4 linked regions of the Homo sapiens genome follow. The protein of the gene in region 3 purifies or fractionates together with the protein of the main gene of each other region. This does not show direct contact. Each region holds a gene or a part of one and is shown on either strand. Other genes may lie near its edges. The genes, in order: BOK, ITPR1, TESPA1 and ITPRID2.

What was found.
Region 1: the proteins of TESPA1 (region 3) and BOK purify together in Homo sapiens (affinity purification with mass spectrometry; 3 studies listed by BioGRID and IntAct, with this or other methods). This does not show direct contact.
Region 2: the proteins of TESPA1 (region 3) and ITPR1 purify together in Homo sapiens (affinity purification with mass spectrometry; 3 studies listed by BioGRID and IntAct, with this or other methods). This does not show direct contact.
Region 4: the proteins of TESPA1 (region 3) and ITPRID2 purify together in Homo sapiens (affinity purification with mass spectrometry; 3 studies listed by BioGRID and IntAct, with this or other methods). This does not show direct contact.

What each region holds. Positions count from the first base shown.
Region 1 is NC_000002.12:241,568,718-241,574,635, forward strand, and holds the end of BOK (bcl-2-related ovarian killer protein), read left to right. Parts: intron 1-1,407; coding exon 1,408-1,571; intron 1,572-3,579; coding exon 3,580-3,705; 3' UTR 3,706-5,414; downstream 5,415-5,918.
Region 2 is NC_000003.12:4,839,324-4,846,354, forward strand, and holds part of ITPR1 (inositol 1,4,5-trisphosphate-gated calcium channel ITPR1), read left to right. Parts: intron 1-6,815; coding exon 6,816-6,902; 3' UTR 6,903-7,031. UniProt on the Homo sapiens protein: Inositol 1,4,5-trisphosphate-gated calcium channel that, upon inositol 1,4,5-trisphosphate binding, mediates calcium release from the endoplasmic reticulum (ER).
Region 3 is NC_000012.12:54,981,763-54,988,803, reverse strand, and holds the start of TESPA1 (protein TESPA1), read left to right. Parts: upstream 1-4,041; 5' UTR 4,042-4,219; intron 4,220-4,637; exon of another isoform or gene 4,638-7,030; intron 7,031-7,041. UniProt on the Homo sapiens protein: Required for the development and maturation of T-cells, its function being essential for the late stages of thymocyte development.
Region 4 is NC_000002.12:181,901,728-181,908,758, forward strand, and holds part of ITPRID2 (protein ITPRID2), read left to right. Parts: intron 1-38; coding exon 39-739; intron 740-7,031.

The sequences.
Region 1 (5,918 bases), on a different chromosome or scaffold from region 3:
TGCCTTCTGTGGCTGAGTAACATCCACCACATTTGTATCCATTTATCTGTTGAAGGATACTTGGGTTCTTTCCACCTTTTGGCAATTGTGAATTGGCTGCTGTGAATGTCTGTGACTGAGTGTTTGTTTGAGCTGATTTATGTTTTCATAACAAATCCAGGTTGGCCGCTGTATGAGGGTGGATTGGAGAGCAGTGCTTCATCTTTGCATGTACAGTGTCCTCAGGCTAACTCCCTCCAGGGACCACTGCTGACTCCCTCCGGGGACCGCTGCTAACTCCCTGCGGGGATCACTGCTGGGCTGCATGTTTTGTGGCCATTCAGATACTGCCAGTGCCCTCAAGCTGGGCTTCCCACCAAGGTTTACAAGGCTGTGCAGTGGCCTGAATCCTCACACTGCCATTTAAAAGCATGTATTTATTTATTTATTTAGAGACGGGGTCTCGCTCTGTCGCCCAGGCTGGAGTGTACTGGCGCGATCTCAGCTCACTGCAACCTCCGCCTCCCCGGGTTCAAGTGATTCTCCTGCTTCAGCCTCCCGAGTAGCTGGGATTATAGGCGCGTGCCACCACGCCTGGCTAATTTTTTGTGTATTTTTAGTAGAGACGGTTTCACCATGTTGGTCAGGCTGCTCTTGAACTCCCAACCTTGTGATCTGCCCGCCTCGGCCTCCCAAAGTGCTGGGATTCCAGGCGTGAGCCACCGCGCCTGGCGTAAAAGCTTTTAATGCAACAGATTACATTTTGTTTTAATTTGCCTTTCTTTGGTTATTAATGAAGGTAAACATTTTTCGTGTCTCTTATTATAATTTTCTTTTGTGAATCAGCTGTTCCAGTTCTGTGCTCATAGTTCTTTTTTGAAAGCCTCTCTTTTCTCGCTCACGTATAAGACGTCTTTCCGTGTTGAGGCGTCGTGTCCTGCCTTTTATTCTTTCCCCCGCTGTCACCATCTTTCGTCCTCTCTTTCAAGGCTGCTCCCATCTCAGTTCAGCCTCAGCAGGTTAGGGGTCTGGGGAAGGCAGTTTCTCTGCGGGCCTCAGCTTCTTTATGTGTAAAATGTGGACGCCAGGCCTGTTGTGGGAACAGGCAGCCCAGGGGTGCCACCCGTGAGGTCACTGGCTGCTCACTCCATCTGCTGCTGCCCTCAGTTCCCTCGCCTCACCCCACGTTGTCCCTGCGGCCTCCTGCACAGACGTGGGCTGGGCAGGTGTGCAGTGGAGGCCGAGAAACCTGCCTGCCCAAGAACTACCTGACAGGCATCCTGTCAGGGAGCGGTCCCCCCTTGGGACGGTCCCTGGTCATTAGCTGGACGGCAAGCAGGACAGCGGCTCAGAGAGGCCCAGCCCCTTCCTTAAGTGCTCCCGTGGGCGGGATTCAAGTCCTGATCTTGACCATCTCTCTCCCTGCAGGCATCACGTGGGGCAAGGTGGTGTCCCTGTATGCGGTGGCCGCGGGGCTGGCCGTGGACTGTGTGAGGCAGGCCCAGCCTGCCATGGTCCACGCCCTCGTGGACTGCCTGGGGGAGTTCGTGCGCAAGACCCTGGCAACCTGGCTGCGGAGACGCGGCGGATGGGTGAGCGCCTGAGTGCCCGTGTGGGTGGGAGAGCTGGGGTGCGAGGGTGCAGAGGTACAGGAGGGAGTGGTGGATGGGTGAGCCTCTGAGCGCCTGGGGGGTGGGAGAGCTGGGGTGCGAGGGTACAGACGTACGGGAGGGAGTGGCGGATGGGTGAGTGTCTGAGCGCCTGGGGGGTGGGAGAGCTGGGGTGCGAGGGTGCAGAGGTACGGGAGGGAGTGGCGGATGGGTGAGCCTCTGAGCGCCTGGGGGGTGGGAGAGCTGGGGTGCGAGGGTACAGACGTACGGGAGGGAGTGGCGGATGGGTGAGTGTCTGAGCGCCTGTGGGGGTGGGAGAGCTGGGGTGCGAGGGTGCAGAGGTACAGGAGGGAGTGGTGGATGGGTGAGCCTCTGAGCGCCTGGGGGGTGGGAGAGCTGGGGTGCGAGGGTACAGACGTACGGGAGGGAGTGGCGGATGGGTGAGTGTCTGAGCGCCTGTGGGGGTGGGAGAGCTGGGGTGCGAGGGTGCAGAGGTACAGGAGGGAGTGGTGGATGGGTGAGCCTCTGAGCGCCTGGGGGGTGGGAGAGCTGGGGTGCGAGGGTACAGACGTACGGGAGGGAGTGGCGGATGGGTGAGTGTCTGAGCGCCTGTGGGGGTGGGAGAGCTGGGGTGCGAGGGTGCAGAGGTACAGGAGGGAGTGGCGGATGGGTGAGTGTCTGAGCGCCTGTGGGGGTGGGAGAGCTGGGGTGCGAGGGTGCAGAGGTACGGGAGGGAGTGGCGGATGGGTGGTCACCTGAGCACTCCTGGGGGAGATGGGTGAGGCAGGGGGTGGGGCAAGGGCCGAGACCTACAGGCAGGCCCTGGACTCTCCTCTGCCCAGATCCAGCACTGACTTACCCCCGATCCTACCCCTGTGCTAAGGACCCGCTGCCCCAGCCCCCGCCCTCCCGAGTGGGAAAAGCAAGGCCCCGAGGGGTGGGTGTCAGAGCCAAACCCTTCCTCTGTCTCCACGCCCCCAACTTCCTGCCCTGCTCCGGCCAGACCGCAGTTGCCGCTGGGCCCTGGGTGTGGAGGGTGGCTCCCCTGCCGAGAGTCTAGCCTTCTTTCCTGTACAGCGGGTGTTGGCCTGGTGTGTAAATCAGCGGCCAGGGGTGACAGCGCTCAGACCCCTCTGCTGGGGCCTTAGCTTTAGCATCTCGAGAGATTGAGGTCACGTGGTCTGCGGGGGCTGTGGTCTCCTCTGAAGGCTGAATTGGGGGTGCAGAGGGCAATGTCCCAAGATGTCGCACATGGCTACAGGTGTCCCTCAGCACAGAAACCCCAAGACTTCCGTCCCCTCCTGTCTTCCTCCTGTGGAGTCTGGCATGGGGCTGGGCACTGTGTGCCCAGTGGGCGACGACACTTTGAGCAACGCCAAGGCCACAGGTCCAGGCTGCAGGGAAAAGCCTTCATGTATTAGCAGGAAGTGAAGGGAATAAGAGAATTGGACGTTCATTCACTTCCCCAGAAGGAACTTCAGAGTCCAGGGAGTCCGTGGGCTTCCGGAAACGCAGTCCCTGCTGTTGTTCCAGGCAGAGTCTGAATGAAGCTGGGTTTGCCCCTTCCTGGTAGCCCAGGCTCCAAGGCCCCACAGGAGGATGACGGCGGCATACCTGTAGCCCCTGGGGGGCAGCAGGCAGGTGGCCGAGGGGAGCTGGCACCCTGGTCTGGATGTCTGGAGCCCCAGCGAGGGCCATGAAGGCCTCTCTCCTGCTCGGCAGGGGCCCTCCGGCCGGCCTGCCTGGCTGCCATCTGTCCCCACCTCCCGTGCCTCCTGGCCCTTCACACTGTCTGAATGTGCACGGCATCGGGTCTGGTCTTGTGTTGGAGCCTTCAGTCCAGGCCACAGACCTCCTTCCCGAACAGTCTCCTGCATTCCCTTCATGCAATTTTGCTGATATTCTGGTGCACGGTGCTGGGGGGCCTGGCGGTGCTGGGGGCCTGGCGGTGCTGGCTCTGCTTTCTAACGGTCTCCCTCTTCCCTCCCAGACTGATGTCCTCAAGTGTGTGGTCAGCACAGACCCTGGCCTCCGCTCCCACTGGCTGGTGGCTGCACTCTGCAGCTTCGGCCGCTTCCTGAAGGCTGCCTTCTTCGTGCTGCTGCCAGAGAGATGAGCTGCCCACCTGGCAGTGGCCGCAGCCTGGCCCTCTGGGCCCAACGCAGGAGGCCCTCAGCACCCGAACACATCTTCCTCCTCCCCACCCGAGCCTGGAGCACTCTAACCCTCGGAGACCCCCTAAGCCCCGTTCCTCCGCAGACCCAGGCCCTCCGGAAGGGGTGAGTGGGGAGGGGCTTTCCTGAGCCTGGAGCTGGGCTTTGGGGCAGCCTGCGACCCTCCCCGCTTGTGTCCCTTCTCCTGTGATCTCTGTGTTTTCCCTTTTCTTTCTGGGGCCAGGAAGTCAGGGTCAACTCCCAGGCCTCAGATGCAGGGGCCCAGAACACCTGCTCTCACCTGAGCCCCAGGTGAAGGGGCCCGGGAACACCTGCTCTCACCTGAGCCCCAGGTGAAGGGGCCCGGGAACACCTGCTCTCACCTGAACCCCAGGTGAAGGGGCCCGGAACACCTGCTCTCACCTGAGCCCCAGGTGAAGGGGCCCGGAACACCTGCTCTCACCTGAGCCCCAGGTGAAGGGGCCCGGGAACACCTGCTCTCACCTGAGCCCCAGGTGAAGGGGCCCGGGAACACCTGCTCTCACCTGAACCCCAGGTGAAGGGGCCCAGAACACCTGCTCTCACCTGAGCCCCAGGTGAAGGGGCCCGGAACACCTGCTCTCACCTGAGCCCCAGGTGAAGGGGCCCGGGAACACCTGCTCTCACCTGAGCCCCTGGTGAAGGGGCCCGGAACACTTGCTCTCACCTGAGCCCCAGGTGAAGGGGCCCGGAACACCTGCTCTCACCTGAGCCCCCGGTGAAGGGGCCCGGAACACTTGCTCTCACCTGAGCCCCAGGTGAAGGGGCCCGGAACACCTCCTCTCACCTGAGCCCCAGGTGAAGGGGCCCGGAACACCTCCTGTCACCTGAGCCCCAGGTGAAGGGGCCCGGGAACACCTCTCACCTGAACCCGGGGGTCCCATCCCAGGAAGAAGGGCCATCTCAGGACATGAGTCCTCAGGGGCCCTGCACATTCAATCTGAAGGTGACCCTGGCCTGGCTGAAGCTGGAAGAGCTGTGGGGACTCAGCCTGTAAACAGAGCGTAAGGTTCACATGCTGGTTGCTTAATCCGTTTCTGGAGGAAGAGTATGACACCCACTTGTGATGGGGTCCTTGTGCGGTGGGGACCGGGGCCGGCGGGCTCCAGGCCAGCACACCTAACCCATGGATGTGGAACCTACGGCCGAGAAGGAATGTTGCATGAGTCGGATCCCAGTCCATTGTCAGTGGAGGGTGAGGGTGACCCCATCTGCTATTTTTGTGCTCATCCTCATACAACCATTTGGGGATGTGCCTATTAGGGCTCCGTAAGAACTCAGATGCCTGGGAAGCCCAGCCCCTCAGGTGCCCCCACACACAGCCTTCCCTTGACGCCTACATTTCTAGGCACATGTGAGGCATCTTTCCTGGAGCCCCGAGCCAGCCCTGTCCCTCCCCAGTGCAGCATGGCACTCAGGAGATACAGGCTGGACATGGGGCAGTCGTTCTGGGGAGGCCTGGCCTAGCAGCCACCCACCTGAGCCCTCCCGGCCAGGCTTCGTGCTGGGGTGGGCCATGTGCCAGGACAGGAGGGTCCCGGCGGAAAGCCAGCCCCGGACTCATCGTGACATTGAGATCCCACTGGAGGGTAGGGGTGGTAATAAACTTCTCCAAACGATCGTTGTCATTTTAGACAGAATGTCACTGTGTGTGTGTTAAATAGCTTCTACCTATACACAACATGGTAAGAGGTGCGGAGGGTTTGCTTGAAAATAATTGAGGGTGGGGAGTGGCGAGAGGGTGGGGATGGGAGGGTTCCTGGAATTGGGTCTTTATCCTGATTAGATGTAAAGGCACTAATGCTGATTTCCAGTAGTAAAAAGAACACCGATAGTCCATAGTGTGATGTGGCAATAGAGGTATGCATAGTATCACCACTGGGTGCTCCTAATTAAATACTTGCAGAAGGCAGGGTTCTCGGTGGCTTTTGAACACTTTCATCAAACTAGAGTATAATGGGCCAGGACCAGTAGCTCACACCTGTCATCCCAGCACTTTGGGAGGCAGGAGGATGGCTTGAGGCCAGGAGTTCAAGACCAGCCTAGGCAACATAACAAGATCCCATCTCTAAAAAATAAAATTAGTCAAGCACGGTGGCCTGCACCTGTGGTTCCAGCTACTCTGGAGGCTGAGGTG
Region 2 (7,031 bases), on a different chromosome or scaffold from region 3:
TCTCAAAAAAAAAAAAAGAATAGAGGTATAGGACAGTATCCGAGACTTCAGATGCCATCTCACCTCATTCCCTTATTTTCTTGATGAGGATACCAAAGGAGCCCAGAAGGTTCTTAGGCATTGCCAGGGCAGGAGCTCCTGATCATCCAGTCAGGGGTGTGTGTGTGTGTTTTTATTTGCTTTGTTATGTCACTGTACTGTTTGCCTTTCATGGTTGACTGTTTAAGTTCTTACTCTTTTTTTAAAAAAAAGCTTGAAGTTTCAGAAGTCAAGTCGCATCATATACTTAAATGGTATGGAGGATACATTCATTGTCATTTTATACAAGTGAGCATAGTAGAGACTTGGCATTTCTAAAATCCAAGATAAGATTATTCTGGATAAGCCAAAGTTTTAGTTTAAACAAAATATGTAAAATTTGATTACATATGGACTAAGGTTCATTAAGTGACATTAAAACCAGTATGGTTTAAACTGCTTGATTCCAGCCTTTTATGCATTTTTTATTTTGAAGTTGGCAGTTGGAACCACTCTTCAGAAAGCCCTTCCCCTGTGAATGAATTTGAACTGTTTTTTTTCTTGGAAGATATTATAAGTTAAAAAGAAGCATGAGAATCCAGTAGTACATTCTCAAGTGCTTTTACCAGGATTGATCTACTTAAGTTTTAAGGTACTCAGAATTACAGGAAAAATTCAGCATAGCTGCTTTTTTTTTTTTTTTTTTTTTTTTTTTTTGAGGGGGCAGGGGGATTTGCATCTTTTAAAAGGAAGTAGTCAGTGTTTTCTTTTGATTATGTAACGTCCTACAAACCTTTAATGCATTTGAGAATCAACTTGTTGAATAGATTTGAATTTCATTAAGTTTGGTTATAGCAATCATAAAGGTTTAAAAACCCTTTATGTGCAAAAGATATTAAAAAATGCAGATATGTTACAGAGCTGCTCTTTCTTAAATAGTAATTGTGAGAATTCTTGCCCTTTGTGGGAAAAAATTTTGAATTAAAAAATAAAAGCTCCATGAATGATTAATGACCAAGAAATCTTGTGATATTTTTTAAAACAGCTATGAAAGAATACCATTCACTAGTAAAAGTGCTAGAAAACACAAAAATTGCTCCATTACTTAGAGGTTTTTTTTGTTTTGTTGTTGTTGTTGTTTGTTTTAGATTTTCTGATTCAAAAACCAGCAGACTCGAGCAACGATAGCTTAAATGTGGATGACTTTGGTCTAAATCTTTACTGTTATTTACCTCTTTGATTGTTTCGTTATGTATCAATCTGAGGGAAAAAAGTTCTTGTTAGGATATTAGTAAAATTATGGTTAGTGGTGTCACTTTTTCTATTATTGCCAAGAATGGTTGGTTAGGATTGCTATTCTAAGTATTATTTAACGATGCCTCTCATCTTGAAGTTTCCCCTCCCAAGAGATTCTGAACACTAAATGTGATTCTCTTACATTCTTATTCCAAGGAGGAGAACTAATGTAAGAACTTAAAAATCTTTTGCATGTTTTCTTCATAATGCAAAAGAGCAAATACTAAGAAGGGCTAACTTTCTTGAAAATATGACTGGCTTCCTATAGGACAGCGACCATTATTTGCTGTTGCTAGGAATACAAGAAGTGCTTGAAAATTCAGATCACATTAGCATGTTACAGCATTTGGCATTTTTCATACAAGAGGGTTATCTTGCTAACATTAACTGCTTAAGGACAGAAGGCATAACACAAGATTAGAATAACTGCCCAAAGTTGGAAAATGGAATATTAAACGACCCGTACTGCATCTATGTTCCTTATACTGTGCTGGGACCACAAAAGAAGACTAAGTCAACATCTGCCCTCTAGATCCAGGATCTAGCAAGAAAGACAAAGAAGTAGACCTCTAGCAATCTGATACAGTATGAATGACTTGAGGCATGAATAGTTTCATGGAGCACAAAGAAGTAGGTAGGTAGTGGTCCTGTGTGAAGTTTGCAGTGCAGAAGGAGTTTAGCTTTTATAATCTTACAAGCAGGTGACTTCTGAGCTGGCAGAGAAATGCAGTAGGGGGCTTCCCAGGAAAGGAATCAGCATGAGCAACGGCATGAAAATGCATGGCATGCTCAAGGAATGGCAGTATGGTCTGGTTAATTCCGTTCCTTCTTTCAGCCAACACATATGAAACACCTGTTTGCCAGGTGCGGCATTAGGTACTGGGGCTACAAAGATGAATAGATCCTCTTCTCTGCCTTCAAGAACTAAAAGTCTAGAGTGGGAAACAAGTAAACAGATCAATTATAATTAAACTTGGTGAGTGTGTAACCGAGCTGTGAACACATTGCTCTGGGAATGGAGAAAAGGGAGTGATTTGTTCAATCTGATCTTCGGGAGAGGATTAGAGTAATTACCACAGAAGTCTTCTCAGAGGTGGTAATTCAGGAGCTTGGTTTCAAAGCCTGAGTAAGAGTTGGCCAGGTGAAATAGAGAGAAACAGAGCATTTGAGATCAACTCTAAGAATCTGAATTGTATCTATACATTGATAGTAAATCAACATATTTGTATTCAAGGGATGGTTTGGTTTCATTTCTCAGTATTTGAGGCTCATCATTCTGAACATGACTGATTTTATAGGGCTGTAGAAAATAACTGTGATTACTAGAATTTGCTAGCTGTTTAGAATCTGAGTAACCAAGACCTTCCTGTAACATGAAAGCAGCTTTTCAAAGACTATTAAGATGTGTTATAAACCAGAAATGTGGCATTTGTGTGCTGTCAATGAACTTTCCTTCCAGTGCCAGCCTTTAATCATTTAGAGGCAATACTGGTAGATTAAAATTTGCCCATTTCTACTGTATGCCTCGTGTTTTCATGAACAGTCTTTCAGATGTCTGGCTGTATCTGACTTGTAAAGCTACACTATTCTTTGCTTCTTGTTTAGATGAGTCAAAAGGAGGAATGCTGAAATTCAAGCTAGTTTCTACATTTGTATAGATGTGAAGAACAGCATTACTACAACTGTTTATCCTTAGCTACATGGGAATTTTGAGGTTTGGTTTGGGTTTTTTGCTTTGTTTTGTTTTTGAGACGGAGTCTCCCTGTGTTGCCCAGGCTGGAGTGCAGTGGCACGATCTCAGCTCACTGCAGCCTCCACCTCCCAGGTTTAAGTGATTCTCCTGCTTCAGGCCCCCAAGTAGCTAGGATTACAGGCATGTACCACCATGCCTGGCTAATTTTTGTATTTTTAGTAGAGATGGGGTTTTACCATGTTGGCCAGGCCGGTCTCGAACTCCTGGCCTCAAGTGATCTGCCTCCCAAAGTGCTGGTATTACGGAGTGAGCCACCATGCCCAGCCGTTTTGAGGATTTTTAAATGTACTATAAATGAGACATCTCACACTACTCAAAATAGATGTTTCAATATTAGAATTTTGAATACAGTTACCATAGATTTTTTTTACTCAAGAGTCAATTTTGTTTCAGATGTCCAGAGAGACTATTATCTGACAAAAATGCTAAGGATAGACTTTGGTCATTATATTTGTTTTGATGTAGGTAAGAGTAACAGACAATAATGATGCCTTATAACAAGATATATAGATAGTACGTGTGAATGTATGTAGGTGGGGTAGGTAAGTAGATAAGAAGAATTGAACTAATAAAACCAGAAATTATGTGAGAATATGCACTAAGAGGCTGGAGAAACCTAAGCGTCCAGAATTGTTGGCCTCAGTTTCTTATAGGTCAGATTTAGTCCTTCAGGGTTTTGAGGGGTTTTTTTTTTTTTTTTTTTTTGGTTCTCTTGTAATTGGATGATGACTGCTACTAAAAGGCCAAACACTTTAGCAGTTGCCCAATTCCTTCTCCTTTAGCAGTCACTTAAATGGCAGTGATGTTGACTTAAATGACAGCCATTCTGTCTAAAAGGCCATGGTTAATCAAAAGAGTATCAGTCAAATGTGTGTGCCTACTATATGCTCAGTTGCAGACAATCTTCTCCAAGAGCTTCCCTCATTTGAGAAAAATAATATATGTACACAAATTACTTTTTTTAAAAAAAGTGTTCAAGTATATACTCAAAATGATCTTGTCCGATTTTGGAGATTATCAGTGAAAAACCTCTTCTAGAGCAGTGGTTCTCAAAGTGTAGTCCCCAGACCGGCAACGTCTACATCATCTGGGAAATCGTTAGAAAAGCAGATTCATGGGACCTACCCCAGACCTACTGAGTCAGAAACTCTGTTTCTGATCTGTGTTTTAACAAATGTTCTGGGTGATTCTGGCGCATGCTGAAGTTTGAGAACCATTCTTCTAGAGAAACAGAAAAGAACATTAGATGTGTAGTTGGTACTTAAAATTATCAGGAATATGACTACCTGAGCAAAGAATTGGCCAATAACCCACATCAGTGGGGAGCCTTAAGGATAGGGACGGAGGGAGGGTGGGCGATGGGATCACTTATGAAGACAGATGAATAGGGCTGCTAACTGAGGAGGCATCAGGCCGCGGCTGTGGAAGTGAAAAGGAAGCCAGGCCACCAACTGAAGACTCCTTTGTTGTAAAGTTTCAGAGGTTTCTTCAAGTTGAAGAGAAAGACTAACTGACAAATTGAAAAGTCAAGGAGAGCTGATGTAACAAACAGGGATGAAAATACGCATACTAAAAGGTCATCTCAAATACAAGTAGTTATTTAAAGCAAAATTACAGGGGAAAAAAGTCTTAATGGCCAACTTTGACATTCAACTTTGAGTTGAAAGATTTCAGCAGCTTTAAATATAAGCTTTGAGTAAAGTATCCTTCAATAAGGGTTGAGCAGACCAAGATTTTTTTTTTTTTTTTTCCAAGACAAGATCTCAGTTGCCCAGGCTGGAGTGCAGTGGCATCATCACTGTTCACTGCAACCTCCACCTGCCAGGATCAAGTGATCCTCCCACTCTTAGCTTCTCAAGTAGCTGGGACTACAGGTGCACGCTACCATGCCTAGCTAATTTTTTTTCCCCTTTGGTAGAGATGGGGTTTTGCTACGTTGCCCAGGCTGGTCTCGAACTCCTGGGCTCAAGCAGTCTGCCCACCTCAGCCTCCCCAAGTGGTGGGATTACAGGCGTGAGCCCGCTGCACCTGGCTGAGCACACCAAGATTTCTAAATCAATTTGAACACTTGAGATTATCCAAATTTAGCTAAGTTGTATTGGATTCCCTCTCAAGGTTACCTGCCAAGGGAAGGGTTGTGGGAGAAAAATCTGAGCTAAACATCTGAACTATCAGGTAGTAAGATGAATGAATTACTGGCATTTTAACCTAATTGTGAATTTATTTCATGTGTCATATTAGGTTCTCCTTCCTGAGCCGAATCTGTGGATACAGTGTAGTGTGTAACACTTCCTTTAAAGATGTCACTCACCTAAGGAAACTTCAGGGGCTAGCTGGAATTTCCTAATCCAATTCTTAATTAAAAGCTTTATTAAAAGCTACCTTTTGGAAATACTAAGTCCTTGTAAGTCTTCTCATCTAAATTATAACAGAGAAAGCATCTCCACAGGAGCCTAAAAATAGTATTTTGATTTGAGAGGATAATGCTAGTTTTGAAGAAGAAAAAATAACCACATTGAAATTGAACCTAGGTAAATTAGTCTTGTTTTATGTTCTCTCCAGATATTTTGTACCAAAAATGAGTTCATGTGAAAAGTGAGATTAAGTGTCACATCTACTATGTGACAGATGCTATGCTAATAAATTTGCGTATAACCTCGCAATTCTCCACCAATCAGCTAGGAATTATCATCCTGATTGTATGGATGAGAAAACAGACTTTGATAAGTTAAATGACAAAACCATAAGAAACTAGATCTGATTCCAAAGCCTTTATTCTTTTTACCCTAATTCCTCTACAATTTTAGGAAGCTAAAAACATAGGAGTAGGACCTTAACCCACTTGCAGACAACAATTTTCTTGAATATATATTCCGTATAGCCTTTTTATCTCAGTTGACTTGAATGCTCACCCTAAAATCCAAAACTAAGACTAACTGGGTTAAGGAAAATCTTAATACAGAGACAGAAGTAAGTATGCCCTAAAATACCTAGAACAGGTCTAGAGACCCATCAACATGAGAATATATTTAGTTCAGCAACCAAATGAATAGAATCGGCTTCTTGTTTGGGATTTTGAAAGTACTTTTTCATTTGAACTAGTCTTAGGCAATGGTCTCGCCTGACCTTCAGCGAGCCTCAGTGTCTACTGGGTGGCAAGAAATAGATACCGTGAATGGTCACAGCATTATTTACAGCATTTAATCATTCTGGACCTCAAAGAGATTTGAGAACATTTCTCATTTTCCTAGTTATGGTAGGTAATTTTTTTTTTCTCTAACCAACTACTCAAGAGTCATTGAAGAGAAAAATCAGGACCCACTGAAAGTGTGGACACGAACCCTCCCTCTCAAACCTAGGATTCTAAACACTGCTTTTCTTGTTAGTATGGCGTGTTGTTACTATCGTACAAAGCCACCATTTTCCAATGAGTCTTCAAATCATTTGGAAGTGCATTTGGGAAACAAGAAAGAATCCTGTGCTTTTATTGTTTTTTGTTTCTTTATGAAACAAGTGGCAAGCAATACTTCTGAATGTTACATTGCATGACTAGGTCACAGAATTTCCCATTCTGCCTAAGAAGATGCCTTTTTTGAAGTGCTGTGTGTTTGATATAGCGATGGTACACTATTTGTAGAAAGTGGGTTTCAGTATAAACCATAACCACAGAGGTAAATCTATGGTTCAGTATGCGATTTGACGTACAGGAAGTATCTGGGTCTAATGATGAAACTTTTTAACTTTCCAGATGACAGAACAAAGGAAGCAGAAACAAAGAATTGGTCTTCTAGGACATCCTCCTCACATGAATGTCAACCCACAACAACCAGCATAAGCAAATGAAAGAAAGGAATTGTATTTACCTTTTATAATTATTATTAGTGTGGGTATGGCTAATGAGTTCTGATTCACCCACGAAGGTTACATTTATGCTGAATACATTTGTAAATACTCAGTTTTATAC
Region 3 (7,041 bases):
TTAGCAAAAAAAACAAAACAGCCAAACAAAACAAAACAAAAATGGCATTTGCAAACCCCAGGATCTGAGAAAGAAGAAGGTTGAGAGCTGAAATGGAGGCAGATGATTTGCATCTGGGCCTGGGCAGAGGGGCCCAGCTGCTCGGCCCAGAGCAGTGGCTCTGAGCAGCAGCTTCTCTGTCTTGGGACAGCCTCTATGGACAGCTGTCCTGGCTCTGCCCCAGGTCTGGGCAACCTGCCAGCTCAGCCTGTAGTTCTGCAGCTCCAGAACTTATACTCACTACAGCCCATCTGTTTGATGGGCTCATCAGTGTTCAGAAATTGTTCTTATTTATCAGTGTTATCAGGTTACATGTCTAGAGGATAATATTATTCAAAAGCAATATTTACTTGGCTTTTCAATGGAAAAGAGTCTTTCAAAATACTTTTTCTAATACCTTTATAATAATTTCTTACCAAATATCACTTAATATTTTCATTTTCCATAATAAACTACATGCAGTTATAAAAGGGTAGAGAAAAATAGTCTGTACAGGTGTTACTGACATCTAAAGCCAAGAGGATCTTAGAAAATATTTCTCTGTCAGAAGGTGATACCGATATCCAGTGAAATTAAGTAACTAGTATAGTTTTAAACTCAGATTGCTCTTTTACCCCTAGTTCAGGGTTTTTACTAAATTCTATAAAACACAAGAGAGGGAGCCATGGAATGACAAATAGGCCCTATCATGAGGCACCAAACTGCTGAATCACATAGGCAGTAGAGAGCTAATTCATTATCTCAGTTAGCATAAGGGTTTTTATTTTTAACCAAGGGAAAAAAAATGAACAAGCTCACAAAAAAACCTTCAGAAACCCTGAACTACTGCGTCTCGTATAAAAAGAACAAGTCATTTTGTTTTCATGAAGCACCTGGAATATATGCTCAGAGAAGTTCATGGTGCCAAAGATATAGAGACAATGTTTTCAAAGGGTGGGAAGGGCAGGTGAGAGGGAAAAAAGAGAAAGGGGAAGGAGGAAAGGAGGGAAGGAAGGAAAGAAGGAAGGAAGGAAGGAAGGAAGGAAAAGGAATGGAAGGAAGGAAGGGAAAGAAGGAAAGAAACAAAGAAAGAAAGAGAAAGACTATACAACTGAGAAAGAAGATAAACAGAGGAATACCCTGGGCCGCCTCCTCCTCCTAGGAATCATATAGTCTTCATCTTTGTCTTTCAGAAGCTGCTTGTAGAAGAGAAAAATATTTCTTTCAAAAAATAAATCACAAATACTATAAACATATAAACCTACATATGTACTCATAAAAATTAAGAATAAATATAAATAAAAACCAAAAATTAATACATCTTTTTTATTAACAAAAAAATCTCTAGCAATTGCTTGTGAAATGGTATCTTTAATGAGTGAGGTAATTTTGACAGATAGACATAGTATTCTGCAGAAACTGAAAATATTATATTTCATGCAAATCAAAACCACAATGAGATACCATCTCACACTACTCAGAATGGCTATTATTAAAAAGTCAAAAAATAAAAGATGTTGGCGAGGTGGCAGAGGAAAAGGAATGTTTATACACTGTTGGCGGGAGTGTAAATTAGTTCAACCCTTGTGGAAGACAATGTGGCGATTGCTCAAAGACCTAAAAACAGAAATATCTTTAGACTCAGCAATCCCATTACCGAGTATATACCTGGAGGAATATAAATCATTCTGTTATAAAGACACGAGCACATGTATGTTTGCTGCAACACTATTCACAATAGCAAAGACATGGAATCAACCCAAATGCCCAGTGATGATAGACTGGATAAAGAAAATGTGGCACATATACACCATGGAATACTATGCAGCCATAAAAAAGAATGAGATCATGTCCTTTGCAGCAACATGGATGGAGCTGGAGGCCATTATCCTTAGCAAACTAACACAGGAACAGAAAACCAAATACCGCATGTTCTCACCTATAAGTGGGAGCTAAATGATGAGAACACATGGACACATAGAGGGAAACAACACACACTGGGGCCTATGGGAGGGTAGAGGGTGGAAGGAGGGAGAGGATCAAAACAAATACCTATTGGGTACTAGGCTTAATACCTGGGTGATGAAATAATCTGTACAACAAACCCCTATGACAGGAGTTTACCTATGTAACAAACTTGCACATGTACCACTGAACTTAAAATAAAAGTTAAAAGAAACTATTATATTTCAAGAGTCTTAAAAATAGCTGCAATTTCTTGAGCATTTGCTGTAAGGTAGGCGCTGGACTGAATACTCTGTATTCCTTTATTCTTATAGCTCTACAACCACTCCTGTAAGGTTATCCCCATTTAGCAGCTAACAAACTGAGACCTAGAGATGTTAACGTATCCAAGACTACAGAGCTACTTGATGCCAGAGCTTCACTCTAAAGCCTGCTCTCCTAACCATCAAACTATCAATGTTAACAAAATGTTGACATTTGGGCCAGGACAATTATTCCTTATACTGAAGAGTCCCATCCCTTCAAAAGCACTTATCATCATTGGCCCTCAGGTACTAAATACCAGTATCAGCTTCCCATTTCTTTGAAAATTAAATCTCTCTCACATATTTCCAAACTCCCTACCGAAGTTATATTCTCCATTTCCCAAACATATTGGAAAACAACTGTTAAGGAAAACATTGAATTCTAGAAACTTAGGATTTAAAAGAGTTGTTAAGTTTCCATTAGTTCAGCTTTTATAGTTAATTTGTACGGAAAAGAATAGTAAATAAAGAGAATTAGGGCGTGTTGGATTTAGCATTTTACTTGTTGACTGTGAAGCTAATTCTCAGAGAAGCACATATTTAGCATCTACTATGTCCTGAGAAAATATGTTAGATATTTTCATGCCTACGTAAAAGGAATAGCGTGGGAGAAGGGTTGAGTGAGAAACAGAGAGAATTGTTATTTTCCTCACATTATACTTGAAGAAAATAATGTTTTGAGAACTTAATTTGCCAAGCAAGAATTTTATTTAGGATTATTTCTACCATATTATAGCTATACTATGGATACTCAATGGAGTTGTCCCATTGATGATTGGAAATGGAATTTAGAAACATGGTAAAAAAAAAATCTAACTATACCTATAGCCAAAAAATCAGAAAGAAGGTAATGAACATGTGAAAATCAGTCACAATTAACACATTAGAGGAGTGCCTTGTAGAATAAATATTGTGATATACATTCATAAATAAATGATTTAAAGAAGGAAACAGTAGAATCAGGAGAGAGACAGAAAGAAGATATCCAAAATGCAGCAGCATCCTACGGAGAAGAGTGTTCAGAGATACTGGAGAAGCGAGGAGGGATAGTTAGCAGTGCTGGATGCTCCCGGTGGGTGAAAGTGATTGAGGCCTGGGAGAAACCTTTTAGAGTTCAACAAGCCTTTTCCAAACTGAAAACCAATAAACTGAAGACATCTTCAGGGTGTAACCGATTTTAAAAGTTCAGCTTTGAAAACGTTGGGGAAAGCAGTCATTTACTACAAAAACAAAAACTTTGAAGTGGTTTGAACATAAAACAAAGTTAAGAAACTAACAGAAAAAAAAAGTAGTCAGTATTCAAAAACAAGCTTCGGGGGAATTTACCAGAGTATGAAAGTTATCAACACAGAGCGACTGGCTCAGAGCCCTCTCAAGTGTGTGATACGACTGGAAACTTCTTCTCTGAGATAAACGCCAGATCATTTATGAGAGAGAGCTTTCCCATTTTCAGACAGCTCTCCTGAGGACAGAAGGATTTATCTGCAGCAGTGGAATTCTAGTTATATGGTAGGAAGACTCCTGCACACACCTCTTTAAATGGACTGTACCTTTGCCTTAATAGGAAAAGATCTCCTGTTTTTCTGGAAAGACAGAGGCAGCTCTGGGGCAGGAAGGTCTTCCTAGTTGTGAGCACCGTGTCTACGGATGGTTTGTCCTTCGCTCAGTCTCCTGAGCCGGAGCAAAGGATGTGGCTGGGCCAGGAGGCGGGGACTGCATCTACATGTGTGGATGTGTGTGTGTGTGGTGTGTTCTCATTTCCGCTTCCCCTTTTGAGCAGGCAACAGCAGTTGAATGAGTTCAGGGAGAAAGGCATAATCTACAACATGATACTTTCTCACTTGCTTCACCTCTGTGCCCACACCTGTGAAGGCCTCGGCCCAGCTTCGACAACTGCTTTGCCTCAAACTCAGCTTTCTACCAGCAGACAGGTAAGCACAGCCTTTATCTCAGTTTCAAGGCTGTACTGATTTAGGGTGATGCTAGGAGAAAGAAGGAAACATGTCAGAGAAAAATCAGGCTGTCAAGTCAAGGGAAAATCAAGAGAAAATCTCCCACCACTCTTACTTCAACCTTAAAAGCATCCATCATTATGCCTAGGAGAACGATGCTGGGTGCCCTTTTGCTTTCGTTTGTTTGTTTTCTCTTTATTATCAGAGAGGTAATCTTTCTAGATTCTCAAAACTTGGGTCTCTTTGATGACTTGAATAACATTTTAGGAATTTTTTTTCACCTTTCTCACCTGCAAAGTTCTTCTCTGTGTCTTGCTGAACTCATTGTTGCTGCAATTTCCATCTGATTATAACATCGAAAAGTTCTCAAGGAAGAAGTTTCCCGGTTTCATTTCAGGCCCTACTCTAGTGTCCATAGCTCCAACCATTGAGAGTACCTGGCTGAAATCAACTTTGCTTTCTGTGGGTATGACCTCTTTCTTCAGAAGCTGTAGAAGAAACTTGTTGAGATAAACTGCAGCAAGATATATTGAGGTCAGCTACGAGGGAGGATGTACACACTTGAGTGAGGTAAGGTCAAATTCACCGGGAGGCTCAAGATAGATGGATAGCCACCATCAGGACCAGATTTCAGGGTTCACATCTCAAAGATAGATAGATGGATGTGTTGCCTTCTCAGTGACCTACATAATATTGGGGGCTTCATGCTCCTCCAACACCCCTTGCCCCAGTGGTAGCAGGCAGAGCATATCACCACCTACATGAGTTTTGGGGTAGATGGAGGAGTGGAAAGATCCTCCACCCTGGGGTTTTCCCATGCCCCTTCTGTGCCACTAAGCTCACCAGTGGGTGGAAGAAAAAGGGTGGGTCCCCAGGGCAGGGCAAGGACAAGAAAGGAGAGTTCCACAGAAGTGATTTGACAAGACTGTGAGCATTTACAGGAGATATCCAGGGAAGTACTAGTGACTCTGTATACCACAAATGGTCCTGAGTAGAGAGGTAAGGAGACTTTCTAGATGGTGCAGGGCAGTACCTAGGATGGGAGGTTGGAGGTAGGAACCTTCAACTTGTGTGTCCAAGTATCAGACTCAATAGTTGTTCAGCTGAGTGATTAGAGATAAAGATCTCACAATATTGTCTTGCAGCATGAAGTGTTAGTAGGAAGAAGGGAAGTCAGGTTTATTGTCTGTCTCTACTTGGACTATTATCAGAAATAACAAGCTGAAGATATAGCAGAAGGGATAGAAAGCAATTTAACATCTGAGTTATTCGCATGCACCCCAGGGTGTTTAGAAACCATTTACAACCACGCTACCAACATGTTCTCATAACTCTTGGGTTTTTTGAAAATTAAGATGGAACCCTGCGATTCAGCATTATGTAGTGAACATGAAGCCCCAACCGTCATTTTCAGTTCAATGTTTGATTTGGATTCTAGTATGGAGGTCTCGTCTCAGCCAATGCTGTGACTTACAAGATTCCTTCTGGGCTACAGTAAGGGGAAAAGATCACACGTTTATTTCCACCTGCAAACTGACAACTGTTCTCTTTTCCACCTAAGGCACAAGACCAAAGTGGATATTCCAGTACCCACAGTACTGTGTGCCTTACAACACCCAGGCCTGATGCAGAATGGCCTAAACACAGATTTCAGATTGAGAAAAGAGTTCAGTCAAATAAGTAGAGGGACGAGGAGAAGAGAGTGTGTAGATATTGAAAAAGAAAAGCAGGAAAGAAGAAAAATGAATATATGCAGGACAGAGCTTATTACCAAGGAAATGAAACTGAAGAATTAAAGATACGAATTCACAGAGCTAACACAATGGTTGAGAAATCTGCTCATTCTCCCTACTTTCTCTTGATGAAGCCATCTATAAATCAGCTCAGATAAACTGCTGTTTCTTATTCTTGATGTCTTTATTGCCCATTCAAATGAAGATATTTGATGTCTCCCTACATTGAGAACAAGCGATTAATTTTTTTTCCAAATCCACAACTTTAATATTTCCTGTAGCAATTATACAAGCCTTTCTTAAAATTCATATCCTAAAAGTGGAAGTAAGGAAGAAAGGGAAGGAGAGGAAAAAGGTCTTAGATGGTCTTCTTTCAGTATTTATTCAGCTACGCTTATTTGTGGGAGAAAGAGTATGAAAAGGGAGGGGAATAGGAGTTCTATTGACTAATGGGCATTTTTTCTTTCTGTTATTTACCAAGTAACATCTCTCCTTTTCCCCGAACAGATTGAACTGCTCCTTAGACAATAGAAGTCTCAGAATGCTCAAATATTATACTCAGGGAAATTCTTGTTCTGATGATCTTCCAACCTGAGTGACATGGAAGAGGGTTAGGAGCTAGAAGACAGTTCTATGAAGGAATGTGAGAATTTGTTGCAGATTGGGGTATGTCAAATGGGGGACAATCCACCTGGGTTGAGGTGGAGTTTGTCCAGTTCATGAACAGAGAAATGTTAGCTACTCTGGGATTTCCCGCAGCTCTGCGATGGTAATGATGTATATCTTGGCTGTGGATGCAGAAGGTCTTATGGGCCACATCATGGAAACCCCATTTCCTTCTTCTCTCCTCCCACACTGGTTCTCACTCTCAGTCTCAACTCACAGGCACTGCTTGGGGCATAGGTACAAAACAGACAGAAGAGAAGAGAGGTCTGTCTCATACATGTCCCCTAGAGCACTAAAGGCAAACCTGGGACTGGGCCTTGGAAACCAAGTGTGGCAGGAGGAAGGCTGTATGATATAAAGGAAGAAAGCATGCATCTGGAACTCAGAACTTGTGAGTTTGGT
Region 4 (7,031 bases), on a different chromosome or scaffold from region 3:
AAATATAAACATATCATTAATATTGTTTCTTTTGGTAGGCCGTTTTCGTCAAATTGAAGTGCTTACTACTGTGGCCAATGCGTTTTCTTCTTTATATTCTCAAGTCTCCGGGACGCCCCTGCAGAGAATTGGAAGTATGTCCTCAGTGACCTCTAACAAGGAGACAGACCCACCTCCACCTTTAACTCGAAGTAACACTGCAAATCGTTTAATGAAAACACTCTCAAAACTGAATTTATGTGTTGATAAAACAGAGAAAGGAGAAAGTAGTAGTCCTTCTCCATCAGCTGAAAAAGGAAAGATTCTAAATGTTTCAGTGATTGAAGAAAGTGGCAATAAAAACGATCAAAAGTCTCAAAAAATTATGAAGAAGAAAGAGTCATCTTCTATGTTGGCTACAGTTAAAGAAGAAGTCTCTGGTAGTTCAGCAGCTGTTACGGAGAATGCTGATAGTGATAGAATTTCTGATGAAGCAAATAGTAATTTTAACCAAGGAACTGAAAATGAACAAAGTAAAGAAACTCAAAGTCATGAGAGTAAACTGGGTGAGGAATCTGGTATTGTAGAATCCAAATTAGATAGTGATTTCAACATATCCAGCCACAGTGAGCTGGAAAATAGCAGTGAGCTGAAAAGTGTCCATATATCCACACCTGAAAAAGAGCCTTGTGCACCACTGACAATACCATCCATAAGAAATATAATGACACAGCAGAAGGACTCCTTCGAAATGGAAGAGGTAGGTAAAAAATTACTGAGACTGGTTTCAAGTTGCAGACTAGGAAAAAAAGTACCAAAAATGCTTATAAAATGAGAGGTAGCTAATAGATTTATACTAGAAAAATTTATTCTAATTTTGACTTTCCAGGTTTATGTTTCACAAACCAAGAATTGGTCTCAGGATAATGTGATGTCGAGGTAATGGGACAGTTCAGTAACTCCTCCAGATCTTTATCCACTAGTTGATATTTGAACCTTAACCCTCTTTTCTCTCTCAAGGGTAAGATTTTGATGCTCAAGAAAGCCCTGAGAGAGTATATTTAAATTCAAAGCAATATTGCATAATAGTTAGAAACACAGGCTTTGAAATCAAACAGGGCTTTGAGTTTTGTCTGCCACTGAATGACTGTATGCCTTTGGGCAAGCTTTTCTTAACATATCTCAGTGGTAAGGATATGTGAAGGCGGCTTTGGGGATAGTTCTTGTTATATGACTGGAAAGAACATGAAGATATTACGTACCTGCATGGGGAGGATAGGGACCCTAGAATTAGCAGGTTTGAAAGGCCACTGAATAGGGTTTCTGCAAGCCCAAAAGACCAATGTTTGGTTACTTGTTATTTGTGTCCAGTAATATACCTGATAGTTAACATAAATTTTTAATTGGAAAAGATAAAAGATACTTATTTTGAATGAGGTTCAGCTAAAACTGCTTCTGAATAGTAGGAGCTGAATAGCTTGGGGCAGGAAAACTGATTTTACCAAGCATCTACCCTGTGCTGGGCACTGTTCTTGGCTCTTGAAGTACTTCATTGCAGTCTGTGAGGCACATGGTAGTGGTCTCATTTTATACATGAGGAAACTGAGGCATATGTATGCTAATGAAGAGTTGTGGCTATAAATTATATAATGCGCAATTTGTCTTTTGTAATTTATTACATTAGATGCGTTTTAGTAATAGTTCACAGTAGTTTTAACATCACACACCATTATTTTAGGGAATTAGAAAATGAAATAATTGATTCAGCTCATAAATGTCCTCTTAGGTGAGTGTCTCTCTCTCTTGCTCCCTCCCTCCCTCCCTCAGATTAGTGAAGATTTTTCATTTATTGTAAAATTTCAGTTGCTGATACAGATTTTTGCCTTTTTGTGGTCTGTTAATACTTTAATTACAACTGAATAGTGAAATAAAAAGGGAGTAGGAGCAGCACCTTGGAATATTTTACATTTTGAGCTTTTTTTCTTTTATTTCTTTGTATATGTTTATATTTCTTCTATCTTTTTACCTCCTGGTATAATTTATTTCTCATCGTAATGAGTATGGAAGATGACTGTGATGACTACATTAAAACCTCTGTTTGTTCTTTTTCACTCTGATAACTTTTTGACTTTGTTTTGGTCTAAACTTGTTCCAGCACTCATAATTAAAGTGTAAATTTTTGCCTACCATTAGGGCCCTCTTCTATGACAATTAGATATGGCAGTTAATTTCCTTGTTTAATACAATAGCAGAGCATAAAGATCTAAACAAATTATGTTAGGTAATTGCAAATCTGATATTGGCGACTCCGAGTGAACAACACTCATATTTTCAAGTAAGTCACTCTTCAAAGAAGTCAAGGAAGTTTATTTTTAATTTCTAAAATTCCTGAATTCTAAGCTGTAGTTTTTAAAATTTTTTAAGATGCCATACACAAAAGGTTTTTTAAACACTTATAAAGTGCTAGATGTACTTTTGTGGCAAGTTAACCTTTAATGATAGTCTGGGGGTTTTTTGCCCCCTCTACTGGCAAAAAAGGTTAATGAAGAAAGCAATGTAGCATTGACGTGAACATTTTTTTGAAGTACAAGATTACATGCATTGGTGGAAGAATAATGGGAGATTTTTTTTTTAAATGAATTTATGGTCGACCACAGCTACATTGTAAATATGGGGAATTTTAAAGAAAATAATGTATCTTCAGATATATTTAAAATATGGATAAAAACCTCCTGGAAGTGTGTTTTCATCCCTAAGGGAACATTAAAGAGAGCTTGTAGAACAATGGATAAAGGAAATAATGTGTTAACTTTAATTTCCTCTTCTCCCAAACACTTGAATCATATTGACAAATGAAGAGAACAATCTTATTGAAACTGACTTTTAGATCCTATTCAGTGTAGTTTGTTGCTATTTTTCTTTTGGACCTCTTTCCATGAGGTTTGATTCTTGCTGGGAATTTTCTTCTTGTGAAAACCATGAGTAAATATAAGTTAGAGCTCCCTCTGTCTCAGTAAATCAGTTCTCAGAAACATTATCTGAGCATGAGCTGCTTTAGGAAGCTAGGAAGGAGAAAATGTTGCAGATATGTTGACTGCATGAAGCTGCCTAATCCATCTGAGACAAGAGGTAAGATCCAACAGTCACCAGAAGCAAAGAGACAAAATACTTAAATGTAAAGAGAGCTAAATAGATGATGAGACTGCTCCTGGCCTGGTACAATGAAGTGTCTGTTTCTTATGTTAGAAAAGGAAAAGGCCAGAGACTTTCAGTTAAAAGTCAACTTGCCTTATAAAGTGTCTTGTAGACTGTTTAAAATAGTTATGAATGTTTATAACGATGTTTTTTCTTTTTTTTTTTTTTTTGAGACGGAGTCGCGCATTGTCACCCGGGAGTGCAGTGGTGCAATCTTGGCTAACTGCAACGTCTGCCTCCTGGGTTCATGTAATTCTCCTGCCTCAGCTTCCTGAGTAGCTGGGATTACAGGCACATACCACCACAGCCAGCTAATTTTTTGTATTTTTAGTAGAGATGGGGTTTCACTACGTTGGCCAGGCTGGTCTCAAACTCCTGACCTCGTGATCTGACCACCTCGGCCTCCCAAAATGCTGGGATTACAGGTGTGAGCCACCACACCCAGCCTATAACTATTTATAAAAAGTTATTAAATCCTGTTCTTGAATTTCTAATTATTCCAAATGACTTGCTTCATTAATTCTTGTGTTCTTCTTGAATGGCTTATTTTGAATACGTCATGGTAACTCTCTGAAGCCATAGATTAGTAGTGTGAATGATTCACAAGTTAAACCAAAATGATCCTTCTCAAGCAGATGTTCATCTTTTAGATGTAAAGGAAAAACTTAAGAAGGAGAACTTTTATCTCAGCATTTCTGTAAGAAGTTGACTGTGTGGTCTTCTTGACCTTTAAATGAATTTTTATTTAAATATAACCATTATTGGATATACACATAATCTTTTTTAAGCTACTGATGTGTTAGTAACTGTTTCTAATCCTGTCTTCATACTAATTATTGATTTAACTAATGTACTTGACTTCTCATTTTTAGCTGTTAAGTTTTAGGATTTTTCTATGTTTATTGGTCTGAGTTAAAATAATCCCACATCAGTCAGATATTTGACAGATAATTAAGTTGTTCCTTTGGCCTTTTAAATGTAACTGTGTATGTTTTGAAGATAAGCCTGCCCTGGAATATGAACTCTAACATATGACATGCACAGATATCTGCTACTCTAAAGCCCAATTAACCACTGTTTTGTTATTTGATATTTACCTAAAAGACCTTAGTCAATTTTTATTGAAAATTTACCTGACAGTAAAAATAAATGATATTTTTGTGTGTATGTGTAAAACTCGATAGTATTTGTTTAAGATAAACATTTGCAAGTAATTTATAGAATCATAAACTAGTACGGAAAGAGATACTTTATTCATTTTCTAGTTTCTTCCCTTTACAAATGAGGAAGCATCCCCTCCCTCATTTGATATTGTTTTATAGCAGTGGTTCTTCACCATCTTTCTGAGGGCTATAATATTCCTTTTGATATCAGTGCTTCACAGGGGGAAGGAGCACAGCGGGTGTCAGTGGAGGATGGCAGAGGAGGATCTCCTGTTGTACATTCTTACTACTTTACTGTTTGAAAGTACTTTGACTTACAGTTACATTTGATCACCCCAAGGACCTATGAGGTAGAAATTTTAATTTTAATTTTGCTGTTAATTTTAATTTTGAGGCTGAGCATGGTGATTCACACCTGTAATCCCAGCACTGTGTGGAGGCTGAGGCAGGAGGATCACTTGAGCCCAGAAGTTAGAGACCAGCCTGGACAACATAGCATGACTTGTCTCTACAAATAGTTTTAAAATTAGCCGTGCATGGTGGTGCATGTCTGTAGTCCCACTTCTCCAAAGGCTGAGGTGGGAGAATCACTTGAGCCCAGGCAGTTGAGGCTGCAGTGAGCCATGATTCCACCACTGCACTCCAGCCTGGGCAACAGAACGAGACCTTGTTTCAAAAAAATGAAATAAAAAAAAAAAATACGGATATTTATCGCAGATAATTGTCAGAGGCCGTTAGCCAGTAAGTGGCATGAATAAGACTTGAATTCACGTTACTTGTGACTATACTATACAACTTGGTGAAGGTCAGATATGTTGGTATGGTCAGGCATTGTACAAGAACTAATCATCTGATGCACAGCACCATGCTACTACTTTGGAAAAAGAATGATTTCCTCTGACATTTTTTTGAGCTGTCATTAAAAATTAGACAGAATTGTAATTTCTAAAGCTCTAGTTTTGATTTTCTTTGAAAACCATTTTGATATACAATGTTTATTCAATGATGACAGCTATACAGTCTCTTTTTAAACTTTAGAGGAAGGGTTATTTGAGTTAGAACATCCATGTATTGCTGTCCTGTGCAATACAATACAGTAGTATTGTGCCTAGAAGATCCCTCTTAGTCAAGGTAAACATGACAGCTGTTAAGAAACCAAAGTGGTTCACTGAAACAAAAAGTACATTTTTTAAACAAGAGAAAGAAACCAAAGTGAGTGCCTGTCATTTTAGCAGAACATTGATTTAGAAAGATACAGTCATTGTTTCATGAAAACTTTTTTAAATGAAGTAACCCAAATGTGTGGGTTATTCTAAAGCTGTTTTTCATCTTTGAATCCCAAAACATTGAGACCATGCAATTTTATCACTTTGGTTTAGTGGTTTTTTTTTTTTTTTATATTATGAAACAGTTTTGTTATGAAAAGTTTCAAACTTACTTGAAGATTAGAGAAAATAATATCATGAACACCCATTACTCATCATTCTAATTCAGTTTTATTTGGCTATTCTTGTTAATTATGAAAGGCTGCTTATAGCAAATGACCAGAATTCTACGGAGCATTTGAAACCACTGAATAGGGAAAATCTTGTCACATAAATCTAAATTCTGTGTTCTATATTTGCTTCATAATTCTCTGTGGTGTACCCCATCTCAAATTTGACTGCCGCCTTTTGCACAATTGTGACCAATAATAAAATAAGAAATTCACCCATTATCACTAGCATGTATGTTTCTCTCTTCAGCAAGTGGGTACTCTGATTTTGCTGAGTAAACAAGAAGAATCCCAACTTTAGTTTTATTAGTAAAATGTGACTGTCTCAGCTTTTTGAAGTGCTCCTTTCTTGCACTTAATTATGGAGTTTGTAGTAAAAGGAGAGAGTAGATTTGTTTTTGCCATTGAGTAGCATCTTGAAGAATAGAATGCTGATGATATGTGTTTATTAAAGTCATGTTATTTTGTGATTAATTTCATAAGTCTAAGGAAATAGAATATGTGATAATTCTGTGTTTAAAGGTGAGCAGCCGGGTGCGGCGGCTCACACCTTTAATCCCAGCACTTGGAAGGCTGTGGCAGGTGGATCGCTTGAGCCCAGGAGTTTGAGACCCCAGCCTGGGCAACATGGTGAAACCCCATCTCTACCAAAAATACAAAAATTACCCAGTCTCATAACCCAGTCTCAAAATAAATAAATAGATTAAATTTAAAAAAAACATGACAGTGAGAGATTTGGTATATTAATGCTGTGCCTGAGCCAGTATTCCTAGAACATAAATGCAGAGGCATTGGAATTCTGCTATAATTTTTTGATCTGGTTGATATTTACTTTACAGAAAGATACTTGAAGTAGACCGAGCCTGAATAGAAGCTAATAATAGACATTTTATTGAATATAAAAAGAAAACGCACATTGTTCCCTTGCATACAAGACAATGGTTTTCCTGTTGAACATGTATCTGCTGCTTTGAAGAATTATTCTAATTTTAACAAGATAACAAAGAATAGTAGAATCTATTTTTATATATCTGATCTACAGGTGATGGTTTTGCATGAGTAGTGTGCTTTCAGTTTTCAAAAGATTCATAAACTTCGGTTCCTGGAGCTATGTAGAGCAAAGAAATCACAAATTAGAGCAAATTTTAAATTGGGTAATACTATCTTTAACCTTTGGGCTTTTAAAAATGTTGGTTATT